Regions from separate parts of the Homo sapiens genome. Here all the other regions are reported to be linked to region 4. The links are microRNA targets in miRTarBase. Many come from high-throughput screens and were not tested one by one. Region 4 holds a microRNA gene; each other region holds the end of a gene's coding sequence.

Region 1 (3,111 bases), not on the chromosome of region 4:
AGAAATTTATTGGTAATTTAGGAGATTTTCAAGGACCATTCTGAGCATGCTCAATTTTGTCCTTAGGCACGGTCTTTAAAACCTAACCACCTTACAAGTTGTGACTCCACTGTACCAAAATGAAGACTCTGAGACTTTTGGGCAAAAGAACCATTTTAAGTATTTGAGTATGAGAAAGATGACAGGATGAATCCACATTCTCTCAGATTAATCTGGTAACAAGGAACAAGAAAGAGTACATTCATCTGAATATACATGGTCAGGTAACAGTGGAATTCACATCAAGAATTTTTTAAAAAAAGAAACCAGTTCATGACATGTCCCATTGTTTTAAGACAACTAAAACAGTAAGAGCTCAATGTCATAAGTATTTATAAGCAACTCTTAATTATAAAATCCAAAGGAAAAATTCTTAACATAACTGGCTTTAGTATGATTAAAGGTTTCTCATTTGCATATATGTTTCAGAGTATTTAAAAAGAATGCCAAGAAAAATCATTTTTAAATTTTGCAATAATTTTACTCTATATACATTGATACCAATCATTTAACCCTGAAAACACAGTCTTCACTAACACAATGTAAAAAAATTTTTTGACAGTAAATGACCAGAAATATTGCATTACCATAAAGCTACAAAGAGGCTCATGCTCCTAAGAGCAAAGTTAGGAAAACAAAAAAATAATAATTATACCAGTGATAAGCACCAAGACAGAACTTTTTTGCACTTAGGGCCTGATTGGTTGTATTTAAACATAACTTCTACATTAGAGGGCCAAAATAACACCTTATAATAATGGCCTGAAAAAAAAAGATAAAAATACACAAATACATACAAAGGTCTCGAAACAGTGAAGAATGCCCACTTTAAAAATAAAATCAATCATACTCATTTTTAAATTAATGTGACATTTGCAAAATATATTTATATATCACTTTTCTTCCTTCTTAAGTTATTTTATACAATTCAGATTGCTCCATTTTTTTTCATCAGTTGTCACACTAAAGTAAACAAATATGTTAAATTATGTAGGTTTGCAGTAATGAATCCAAACCATTAGCGCTAGATTGAGTAGCTCCAGCAATCTTCCTTGCAACTCACTCCAGCTGGTGAAACAGATTATTTATCTTCATAATTTTAAAAGCCTTAGCCAGGTGAGAGAGAGAGAGAGTGTGTGTGTGTGTACAAGTTTGCCAGAGCAGTGTGAGACAGTAAGTACCAACCAGAAAGAGGTGAGACATACAAACAAGCTTACACAATGGTCCAACTAACCCCTAAAAGACTTGGGCAGTCAGACACTGAGTTACCCTCAAAATAAACCTGAGGCTGAGCAATGGGGGAACCAGAGGATCTGTCACCACAATGAAGAGTCAGTGACAGGTTTGGAAAACAAAAACTAAAGTGGGATGTCTCAGGCACAGCATTCCTGTGACACTGGAGGATACGAAGCAGCAATAGCCACTTTTCAGGCAGAGATAAGGGATTGGGATCCCCTGGGTCTGCAGCTGAGGGTCCCTGGCACTTCCCAGAGGGCACTGCAGCAGCCTCTGGCAGTGGCCCTCCACCTTACCCACTGACAATGTCTTAGGGGTCCCAGAGTGTGAACCTGGGCATCCCTCTTCCTGGTCCCAAGGGTGCTCCCAATACAATACTTTCCCTCCCGCAGGCTTGGCCAAAACCATCACCACCCTTTCACTTCCAACTCAGTTTCAGAAAGGGTGTCTCCTGTCCTGTGGGGTCCCTGAGTTTGAGATAATGCGAACATACTGGAGGCTGTAGCAATAACATGTGAAGTCAGGCAGTCACTTTAAAACCTAAGCAATCTACATGCAGTATTAGCCAGTTGTTGTTATCTCAGTAACATTTCTTACCGAAGTAGTTTTTCCACACAACTTACAACATAAAGGACAAAGAAAAAATATTGCTGGAATATGATAGACTTTTTAAAGTTCAGTGTTGAAACTCCTTATGGAAAAGAAAAGGAGATATTACTTTTCCACTTTCTATTTCCTGTCTGTGGCTTTGAGGTAAAAGAACACTAAGGTTCCTGTGAAGTTCCCTCTGCCATTCCACCAGCACAACAATCCCAGGGAATTCCTGAGCCGTCTACCTCCTAAATTTGTAATCATAACTCTGGGCATGTCTATACAGCTCTCTAGTTCAGTTTCAAAATCCACAGCATTTGGAAACAAAATGACACAGTTGCATTCTTTAAATGCCAGTCATGAAATCATCACTTAAAAAAACAAAGAGAAACTAGATAGAATATATATAAATATATGTGTCAAATAAAATTATTTCATTTTTAAAGGTATTTTATTTGGTATGTTGAAGACATGTCTATGACTGCTTCTAAAAGCCCTGGGGAGGAGCCTCATATAGCATGCTGCAGTATATTTTGTCCCAACATTGTCATGTGCAATCAGTGAATTTCAGTTACACCAAAATAATAATCTAACCTGTCTGAACATGCAACTTCTCTTTTTATTCTCTGCAAAACTAAATTCCCTTCTTTATAAAATGATTAGATTTGAGGATCAAGTTAAAATCCACTATATTCCAAGTTAAACTCTGAGGGTTCTGCACTATAGCATGATTTTAAATTCATATTGGCATTCACTTTTCTGAATTTTCCTATGCGTATACTAAATAAATTTCCTGGACCATATTTAGTGAGAAATTAAAAGAGATTTACATTGCACTGTGAAGTTCCAATAAATTCTCAATTGATCGGGGTTTATCTCTTAGCTCAATGTCATACAACCTCTACATGACGCAAGCATATGGACAAAAAGGATTTTAAATACAAAACCCTTAGCTCTGTGTCATAAATAAATTTGGGTAAAAACGCAGGCCTTCCACTGAGTCATCACGGCAAAGATGGCCCATCTTCTCTGCAAGCAGCAACCTAAAAAAAAACAACAAAAAAACCCCCACACAATTATCTGTTCATGCAGACACACAAACATACATTGTAATGAAAGGTAAGAACCTTACTTACCTTTCTTTGGCTAGGAGGACAGACATTCCCACAAGCTTAGCAAACTCTTCTGATGTTAGGGATCCCTTTTCTGAAACCTAATAGAAACACACAGCAGAAAAAAAATGTA
Region 2 (3,120 bases), not on the chromosome of region 4:
AACACAATTTGTTTTTTTCATTTCACAAAAAAAAAAAAAGGCGGGAAATTGTGCTTTGTCAAGAGGCACTACAAGAGAAAGTTTCTTCTTCCAAATAGATATTATATGACAGATATTGAATAAATAGACATATATGCATTGTAATTCGCAAAGATCTGGCAAGACCACAGGCTAAAATGCCCACAGATTCACTTAGAACCACTGCAAACTTGGCAGTGAAATTAAAAAATAAAAGGCAAGACTTAGCATTGAAAAATACCTAATAAATTTTTGGTTGAAGTGTAAAAGATACCAAATGCGGATGCCATCGATAGATGAACCACCTTGTAAGAGCTTGGCAAAATCAGTTTCCATTACGTGTACAGAGTGACCTTCAGCAACAGTGTAAGAAGACAATTTGGAAAGAGTAACTCGGAGATCAGGAAGCAGCAACCATGGACTTTCTGATTAAAGCTGCAGCATACTACAGAAATAGGAAGGATGGGGCCAGGGCTAACTGCAAACAACCATCCTTTTGCAAAGGTATATGACGCTTATGTCAAGATAATTTTTAAACATCATTATTTGAAAAAGTACAGGAAAATGTCCCTTTAAAAACTCCAGAGGTTACTGAGCAGCTAGAATTAGCTTGTATTGCAACATGTCTTCTCCCTGTATATTGTAAGTTCTGAGTTAATATCTACACATAGAGGTTTTTTTTTTAACTCCTACCTTTTATACCTTTCAAATATATAAATAGTATTAACAGTTATATTACAATGTTTGTGTAGTAAACAGAAAATAACTTTCAAAGTGATATTGCATGAGGTCTTTGACAAGGTTTTGTGAAAGCACAACTCAAAAAAAAAAAAAAAATCCAACCATGTGGGACTGTTTAATGGCCAGTTTAAAGCATGGATTACGTTCACTAGGCCAGTCCTGAATGTGAGGTCTCCTCTTGCAATTACTGTAAGTAGAAGTGGAAAGTAATGCTTCTGGTGTTTCTCATAGGAAGCCGAAAGAGATCTGGAGTACTATAGTAGATTGCAGCTTTAATGCTCATCCCATTAAACATCCAGTCAGCATTAGTTCTGCTTTACATAAGGTAATTGCGATGTAGGTAACTGGGATAATGTTTTCTTTTAGGATGAGTAAGTGATTCTACTGAAATCGCTTCACATACTCTATTGCCTGGAGCTGCACAACGATTCAAAAACAGTTCTTGTTAGGGCTGTCATCCCAGGAAAAGGGACAGGAGAGATCAGGGACTGAAAATGTTTGATTAGGTAGATGGAATGTGTACGAAGAAGAGGAAGCCCAAAGTGAAGCAGAAATCAGAAATGTCTTTTGGGAGAGGGAAGGATGGAGATTTATTTGAGAGGGAGCCCCTTTAACTGGGCAGCAACTTCTTTTCTAACTTAATATTACACTGAACTATTTTCTAGTAAAAAACAAAAAGACAAAAAAACAGCAACAACAAACAACTTTTAAACGAGCAGGCTTATTAATTTTCAGATTTGAAGCCACAAGCAGGTAAATAAATTTCACAACAAAATGTGGCTCATACTATGAATTCCATATGTCCAATGTCAAAATGTCATTTGATCAAGACTTGCACTAGTGGACAAAGTTTTCTCTGCACTGAATTTCAGTTTTACTTATTTGGAATTCCACAGAAATGCATCTGTTCACTACAGTAATGACAAATTGAATAACGGAACGTAGCAAGTCATTTTATTGAGTCATTTTAAGTGTGCATTGTGTCTTTAAGATTTATTTGACTTGTATCATTTTAATGTGCCCTGATTGTTTTCACTTCACTTTTTTTTTTTTCGGCAGTGTCGTTTATTTTGTTAAATACATACCTCAAAAATTACCCATTAAGCTGCCAGATAGGAAGCCATAGAATTAAAAAAAAAAAATCAGGGACAAACACAAAAAATAAATAGGAATTCAAAAATAGTCACCCCACCCTGAGAGCAGGCCGCAGTTTATCAAAAAGCCAAAGCGACTCACTGTGAAGTGGTTTTTTTAATACATAAACAAGTCTTTTCTTTAAGAACTCATTTCACAGTCTATTCTTTCGGATTGCAAAGTCTCTGTCCCATGCAATTTTAATATATATATGTAAATATAGAGATATATACATATACATATACACACACACTTGTAGCTTCCTTCATTTATTTCATAGTTCTTTTCATCCTGGTACTTGCCTGATGTAACTTCCGTTAAGTGCAAGGATAATGAAGGCAGAGTCTCCTGTGATTATAATGACTATGATCCAGTCATAGAGACGGGATAAAGTGTAACGCTTTAGTGTCTTTGCCAAGGCGATGTCTGATTCGGAAATACTGAACTTATTCAGTCTATAGGTGTATCCTGTGCAACAAAGAAATGTCCAAAAGGGTAAGAAAAACAAAACAGACATAAAAAGACAAAAATAAAGCCAAAAAAACCCAAAAACAAAAACAAAAAACAAACTAACAAAAAACTTTTAAAGAAATGAAAGCAGAAAATCCTTGGACCGATGTATTGCTTTGCCTAGTAGAAGTTCACATTATCTCTGGTCAATTTCGGCAGGTGCTGCCTTGCTTTTGTCAGCATTTTCCTCCTCAGCCTCCACTTTGTACATCTCCTCGGAGCCTTCCTCGCTGTCGTTCTCCTCTGACTCGGTCAGCAGCTCCTCGTCCTTATATTCAGCCACGTCCACCGCGGAGCCCAGGTGCTCTTTCAGCTTCCCGTGGTGCTTCACGTGGTACCGCTGGTTCTGGAAGAACTTGATGATGGTGTGTTTGGGGAGATCCAGCTGAGCCGAAAGAGTGTGGATGGCTTCCTGGTCTGGGTACAGGCCTACATCATGAATAAAGCTTTGGAGGATCCCCAGGGCTTCTAAGGAGATCTTTGTGCGAGACCGGGGCTTTTTGGCACAACTGTCTTCAGTCGGAGGAGGTGGGGGAGGCGCTTCTTCTCTGGGAGGGGAACTCTCCTTGGCTGGCTGAGACTGCTGTCTATGAAGTACCTGATAATTAAGAGAGAAAAAAATGAACACTGGACTCATGATTTTACCTTTCCAAAACCATCAGCCCTCTGAAATATGTGTTATCTATCTAGCACTGGAGGTAAGCTATAGTCATTTGT
Region 3 (3,124 bases), not on the chromosome of region 4:
TCGTGAGGAGGAGGAGGTGGCTGTTTCATCAGCCCAAGAAGCAGGGAGTGCAGAACGTGGGGGTCCAGGGACACAACCACCGGGAATGGGTGAGGCTCTCCTAGGAAGTGAGCAGTTTGCTGAGACACCCAAGGAGAACCATAGTAACTACCGGACCTTGCTGGAAAAAGAGAAGGAGTGGGCCCTAGCAGTGTCCAGCTCCCAGCTTAACACCATAGTGACGGTGAATCACCATCACCCTCACCACCCAGCAGTTGGTGGGGTTTCAGGAGTAGTTGGGGGAACTGGGGGAGACTTGGCAGGGTTCCGCCACCATGAGAAAAATGGTGGGGTGGTGCTGTTTCCTCCTGGGGGAGGCTGTGGTAGTGGCAGTATGCTACTAGATCGAGAGAGGCCACAGCCTGCCCCCTGCACAGTGGGATTTGTGGACTGTCTCTATGGAACAGTGCCCAAATTAAAGGAACTGCACGTGCACCCTCCTGGCATGCAATACCCAGACTTACAGCAGGATGCCAGGCTCAAAGAAACCCTTCTCTTCTCGGCTGGAAAGGGCTTCACAGACCACCAAACCCAAAAAAGTGATTACCTCGAGTTAAGGGCCAAACTTCAAACCAAGCCGGATTACCTCGAAGTCCTGGAGAAGACAACATACAGGTTCTAACAGAGAGAAGAAAATATATTAGTGCTTTTTTTTTTTCAAAAGAAAAGGAAAATAAAAGAAATATATCCCTTGCTCCCTTTACACTTGTCCCAGTAACTCCATCCTCACGATCTTTCCTACCCTGAACAAAACTAAAACCGCATGATAACTAGAGAATACAGATGTATGCTCTCCCCTCTCAGATGCGATTTGGAGGAAGGGCCATACTCAGATCATTAATCAATGAAAGTGCCTTCGCAGACTTTTGCCAGCAAATGTTATCATTATTTTTTTATACTGAAACTTGAGACTTTGACTGTGCCATGTATAAGATATACTGGGGATCATTGTATGGATCCTAATTAAGTAAAATTCAATGTGTCTTTTTATTTTCAGTAACTATTTTTTTTATAGTTGTAGTTTTGATTTAAAGGGGGGGAAACAAGTTGACATTTGTCATTTGTGGCTTTCTTTCTTATCATCATGGCACAGATTCTGTACATGTATTAACAATGCAGTTTGCTGCATGCCTGGAAACTGCAAGATGGGGAGGGAGGGGGCGGGTCTTGCTCGAATGTTCTCACTCACTATCTTGTCTCTCATACACATATCCATCTGCAGACCATGGTCCCTAAACCTGCAGTTTCTTCCTGCTGGTGCAGGTACACACACACACACACACACACACACACACACACACACACACTCCATACCATTTCCATTCAACTCAATCTGCTTAGTTCGGGTTTGATCCATTTTTCTCCTCTCCATAGTTCTACCACCCTTCACTGCTAGTGTACAGCTCACAGCATCTCTCCTACCACCCTGGGAAAAGTCACATTCTAGGCTGGATTCTACTGAAGTAGAGGCCTGGTGGTTTAACAGCCGAAGACACACGCCTAGGGATGAGCACCCTCTTTGTGACACTTCATCCTGATGCCAAGATTTTTTGGAGAACATCTGCACTTTCTTATATATATATATAATATTAAAAAAAGCAACTGGGTATATATCACTAACAGCTTTGTAGGAAGCACTTTTAATGTTTTCTCTCTCACACACAAAGATTCAAAAGAAATGTGCATATATTTATTCTGTAATTTCAGTGATTATAAATTGTAAAGGTAATGTTTAATCATTGTATAGTGATTATGCCTCTGGTATAGCTTTCCTAATAAAAAGTTTTTGAAAAACATAATACATTATATATAGAGGATACAAAGCTTGAACCTTAAACTCCAGCTATGCCATGCCTTTCGTGCTTCCATTTTAGAAATGATTTCTTTTACTTGTTACACAGAAAGTAATTTATTAACGGGTTTGATGCACTGTGATGTTGATAAATCTTATATCCCACCATCTCTAGTCCAAACCAGGATACAATTGAGACTTAAAATGTGACTTACGGTTTACTTTTTTTTCCTTGAATTATGAATTTCAGTCTTAGTAACCAGTGATGCACTGTTTCCCAGGCAAGATGCAAGGGGGAGAAAATAAAGTAACTAGATCGCTAAGAAGTACAGGATTAATTAGGAGAAGATAATCTAGGATCCATACATCTTAAGATAATAAATGAGATAAAGAAATTGGAAAGTAAAATTGCTATTGTTTTTAAAATATGTAGTCCAATTACATGCACACCCTCACACACCCACACGCTTCCACACACACCCACACAACCCAATAAATATCAAAGGCCGTGGAGCCAATTTAGATGGCCAGAATCCTGTGAAAGCTGTCACTTATATTTGGTTACCATTTTCCAACCACTTACAGCAACTGGCCCCAATAACGCTTGAACTAAGTCAGAGGATGCTGAATGAGTTTTTCGTCATATGACATTAAAATTATGTTGAAAAATTAACCTGACAACAAACCAAGTTTAGATCCATTTATATGTGAGCGAAACCAAAGAATATTGGATTTTTATGGTGCCGGTATCAAATTGGTGGAGGAAACTTAAGAAAACAGACCTATGAGGCAGGCACTTATCTAAGTAGGCCATTAGAGGGCAGCAGAGTTCCAGAGATCCACAGACCCAGGACCCGCAGAACTGTGCAGCGAGGTCAGTGCTCTCTGCTAGGGTTTCCTCAAAGTGCCCATAGCAGGAATTATCATTAGGTGTTGAATGTAATTCATCACAAGTCACTGAAGCCTTACATCACAATTTTTTCCACAAAAAGAGAATGAGTCTAGCAGCTTCTGAAGGTGTGTGACTACAATAGCACGAAGGCATTGTAGTAACAAAATGAAAAGCCCCATGAATGTCTACAAGAATATATTTATATTCCTCTTAATTAATTATATAGAAATATCAGCATAGGTATGCATAAAAATAAAAAAGACAAGTATATACATATAAAATTGCAGTTTTGGGGCTCTTGACATGTATCTATAACTTTTATGCTCAATTATTTGAATATAATTTGGAATTATTTTAAAAGGAAAAAGCCCATGAACATCATTCACTTTATCTGTCTGTGT
Region 4 (3,128 bases):
CTCACACGGACGCTCACGGTCACACGGATGCTCACATGGATGGTCACACGCTCACACGGACAGTCACACGCTCACACGGATGCTTACACGGACGCTCACACGGATGGTCACACATGCTCACACGGACGGTCACACGCTCACACGGACGCTCACACGGACGGTCACACAGATGCTCACATGGATGGTCACACACACGGACGGTCACACGGATGCTCACATGGACGGTCACACTCTCACACGGATGGTCACACACACGGACGGTCACACGCTCACACGGATGCTCACATGGACGGTCACACTCTCACATGGACGGTCACACGGATGCTCACATGGACGGTCACACGGATGCTCACATGGGCGGTCACACTCACACAGACGGTCACACGGATGCTCACGGATGGTCACACGGATGCTCACATGGACAGTCACACAGATGCTCCATGGACGGTCATATGGATGCTCACACGGGCGGTCACGCTCTCACACGGACGGTCACACGGATGGTCACACAGATGCTCACATGGACGGTCACACTCTCACATGGACGGTCACACGGATGCTCACATGGACGGTCACACTCTCACATGGACGGTCACACGGATGCTCACACGGACAGGCACACAGACGCTCACACGGACGGTCACACGGATGCTCACATGGATGGTCACACTCACATGGACAGTCACACGGATGCTCACACGGATGGTCACACGGATGCTCACACGGATGGTCACACGGACTCTCACATGGACGGTCACACTCTCACACGGACGCTCACACGGACGGTCACACGGCTGCTCACACGGATGGTCACACGGACGCTCACATGGACGGTCACACTCTCACACGGACGCTCACACGGACGGTCACACGGATGCTCACACGGATGGTCACACGGACGCTCACATGGACGGTCACACGTTCCACACGAACGCTCACGTGGATGCTCACATGGACGCTCACACGCTCACATGGACGCTCACTCACATGGACACACACGGAAACACGGACAGTCACATGGACCGTCGCACACTCACAGACGGTCACATGCTCACACGGATGCTCACACCGATGGTCACATGGACGCTCACACGGACGGCCAGGATGTGGTGATGTGAGACACGCAGGGCGGCCGTACCCCGATGAGACAGAAGCCACACACAGGCACCCAAGAGGGACAGACATGCGACACACGAGCCCTCTTGGCTTTGACAAGAGGCCCTGGAACGGGGCTGTGTGGCAGTTCAGCCAGTGCCACGTGTCCCCAGTGCCGTGCACTGCGCGAATGTCTCAAGACAGCGCCTGGCACGTGTGTACACATGGCACGTGGTGACGGCACACATGTGGCCACACAGACACACACACACTCTGCAGCAGTGGCCCGAGAACACTGCCTGGCGTTTGCACTCACACCGACTGCATTCCAGACACACACTCACTAAGCCACGCCAGGCGTGAAGGAAAATGTCCATCTGGGTCAGGAAGGAGGGCGCCCAGCGCTGAGGATGGACGGCGCCCTCATGGTGAATCAAGGGGTTTTGGCTGAGCAGATGGGACTGACTCAAATATGTGTCCCCCAAGGGACCAAAGGTTGTGGCAGGACAGAATCCACACCAGAGAAGAGAGAGCAGGTGTCCAGCAGGGACGGGCTCCTTCCAGCTCAACTGCCCAGCAACAGCATACATCACCAAGGCCTGTCCCAGCACCCCTGACCCCACAAAGGCAAGCACTCGGGACAGGGGAGGGGGGCCGTGCCTTCCTCCTTTAGCTGGCTCATGCCTTCAGAGGCACAAGGCTGTGGCTGCCATCCACGCCTGCAGGCAGGTGGCAGACAGCACGTGAGCCCCACCCTCTCCTTCCTGGCCAGGGTCTCGGCCTGGGGAGGCAGGGGACACACGAGCCCGGAGGTGGCTCTTAATGCCACCACCGCAACAGCAGGCGTGACCGATTCCGTGCGCTGGTGATGCGGCTCAGTACCACCGCCGGCCAGGGAGGGAGGCAGGGGTAGCCCAGCCATAGCCCTGCCCCTCTGTCGCCCCCATGGAGCATGCTCCCGTCAGGGCCTCGGCATGCTCAGGGAGACAGGGCCGCCAGCCCCAGCGCCTTCTTCCCGCAGGGCCAACGTCTTCTCACGTGCTGTGGAGATCTGGCAAGGAGGCCCAGGGGCCAGAGTAATGTAGCTGCGCAGACCCCACTGCAGGGTGCCTTCTGGCTGGATCCAGTCATGGCAACCAAGGCTTTGGTGTAAACCTGGATGAGACCCCTCCCTCTCCCACAGAGGTGCAGGGGTCCTGTTTCACAAATGGAGGCTTCCTGGGGTCCGTGGCTGGGGAAGGCCCCTACCACACAGCCACTGCTGCTGGCGTTGCTCCCACGGCCGGTGCCAAAGGTCCTGTGTGCCCAGAAGAAGTGAATGGCTGGGGCCAGGTCAGGCAGAAGGACCTGGTTGTGGCAGCGCTGACAAGAGAGCACCCCAGATCCATCCCTTACAAAATGATCGAGGGGCTTCTTCCAGAGGGCACCGTCTGGTTCCCTGAGGGGAGTGCAGCAGCCCTGACATAGCCTTCAGGAGCCGTGGCAGAGCTGCAGAGGGGACCCCAGCAGTGGGGCCCTGACAAGGACGAGGTGCACCACCATGGGGCTTCCCACTGAACTCTCGGCGCCAGGACGAGCCAAGGGACGGGGGCGGCGCCCAGCCCAGACTCAGCTCAGGTCCCTGGGTCCCGCGGGGACACCTCGACAGCAGGTTCCTGGGCCACCTTCTGCCCCACACCATGAGAGAAACATGCAGGACGAAGTACTCCTTGCCCCGCAGCCACGCGCCTCTTCCAGGTAGGCCTGGCCTGGCCCATGACGACGGCAGCATCAGGCGGCTCTGGAGCTGGGGCAGCCTCTGCTCTTGGCTGAGCTCACATGGCCCTGGGGCTCTCAGGACCTCTCGGGTGTTGTCTGTGGGCCTGGGGTGGGGATCACTGCAACTCGGAACCTGGGCTCTCGGCCGGCGTCCTGAGTTCACACGTCACACCTCTGGGATCTGGGATGAGCTGGGCACACTGTTGCTGGGCTCCTCCTGCCCAGGCGCCCTCCGACACAGCCTCAGAGGCACTCCTGTCTGAGGCTGCGCTGGC

Evidence for each region. The annotated mature microRNA hsa-miR-3177-5p reads UGUGUACACACGUGCCAGGCGCU and lies in region 4 at 1,298-1,320, opposite strand. An mRNA with a match to its seed (bases 2 to 7 or 8) in the 3' UTR can be bound and repressed. Matches are read on the target gene's strand: a 7mer-m8 pairs with bases 2 to 8, a 7mer-A1 pairs with bases 2 to 7 and ends in A, and an 8mer does both.
Region 1: the mRNA of VPS36 is a reported target of hsa-miR-3177-5p. Seed matches in the 3' UTR shown: 8mer at 1,181-1,188.
Region 2: miRTarBase lists SATB2 as a target of hsa-miR-3177-5p. Seed matches in the 3' UTR shown: 7mer-A1 at 1,276-1,282 and 7mer-m8 at 358-364.
Region 3: the mRNA of SLITRK3 is a reported target of hsa-miR-3177-5p. Seed matches in the 3' UTR shown: 7mer-A1 at 1,303-1,309.

Annotation. Positions count from the first base shown.
Region 1 is chr13:52,413,015-52,416,125 of GRCh38, forward strand. VPS36 (vacuolar protein sorting 36 homolog) reads right to left here. Exons shown (of 14, transcript NM_016075.4): 13 at 3,003-3,079; 14 at 1-2,909. The coding sequence ends at 2,816. Among named protein-coding and RNA genes, the nearest start is that of THSD1, 8.4 kb to the left of the region's middle.
Region 2 is chr2:199,269,672-199,272,791 of GRCh38, forward strand. It overlaps SATB2 (SATB homeobox 2), which reads right to left. Exons shown (of 11, transcript NM_001172509.2): 11 at 1-3,001. The coding sequence ends at 2,540. Among named protein-coding and RNA genes, the nearest start is that of SATB2, 190 kb to the right of the region's middle. RefSeq lists an enhancer at 2,214-3,120.
Region 3 is chr3:165,185,434-165,188,557 of GRCh38, reverse strand. It overlaps SLITRK3 (SLIT and NTRK like family member 3), which reads left to right. Exons shown (of 2, transcript NM_001318810.2): 2 at 1-1,838. The coding sequence ends at 661. Among named protein-coding and RNA genes, the nearest start is that of SLITRK3, 9.4 kb to the left of the region's middle.
Region 4 is chr16:1,733,187-1,736,314 of GRCh38, reverse strand. MIR3177 (microRNA 3177) reads right to left here and starts at 1,330; the gene lies at 1,249-1,330. All of the region lies in intron 4 of MAPK8IP3 (mitogen-activated protein kinase 8 interacting protein 3), which reads right to left. RefSeq lists enhancers at 350-849, 850-1,351.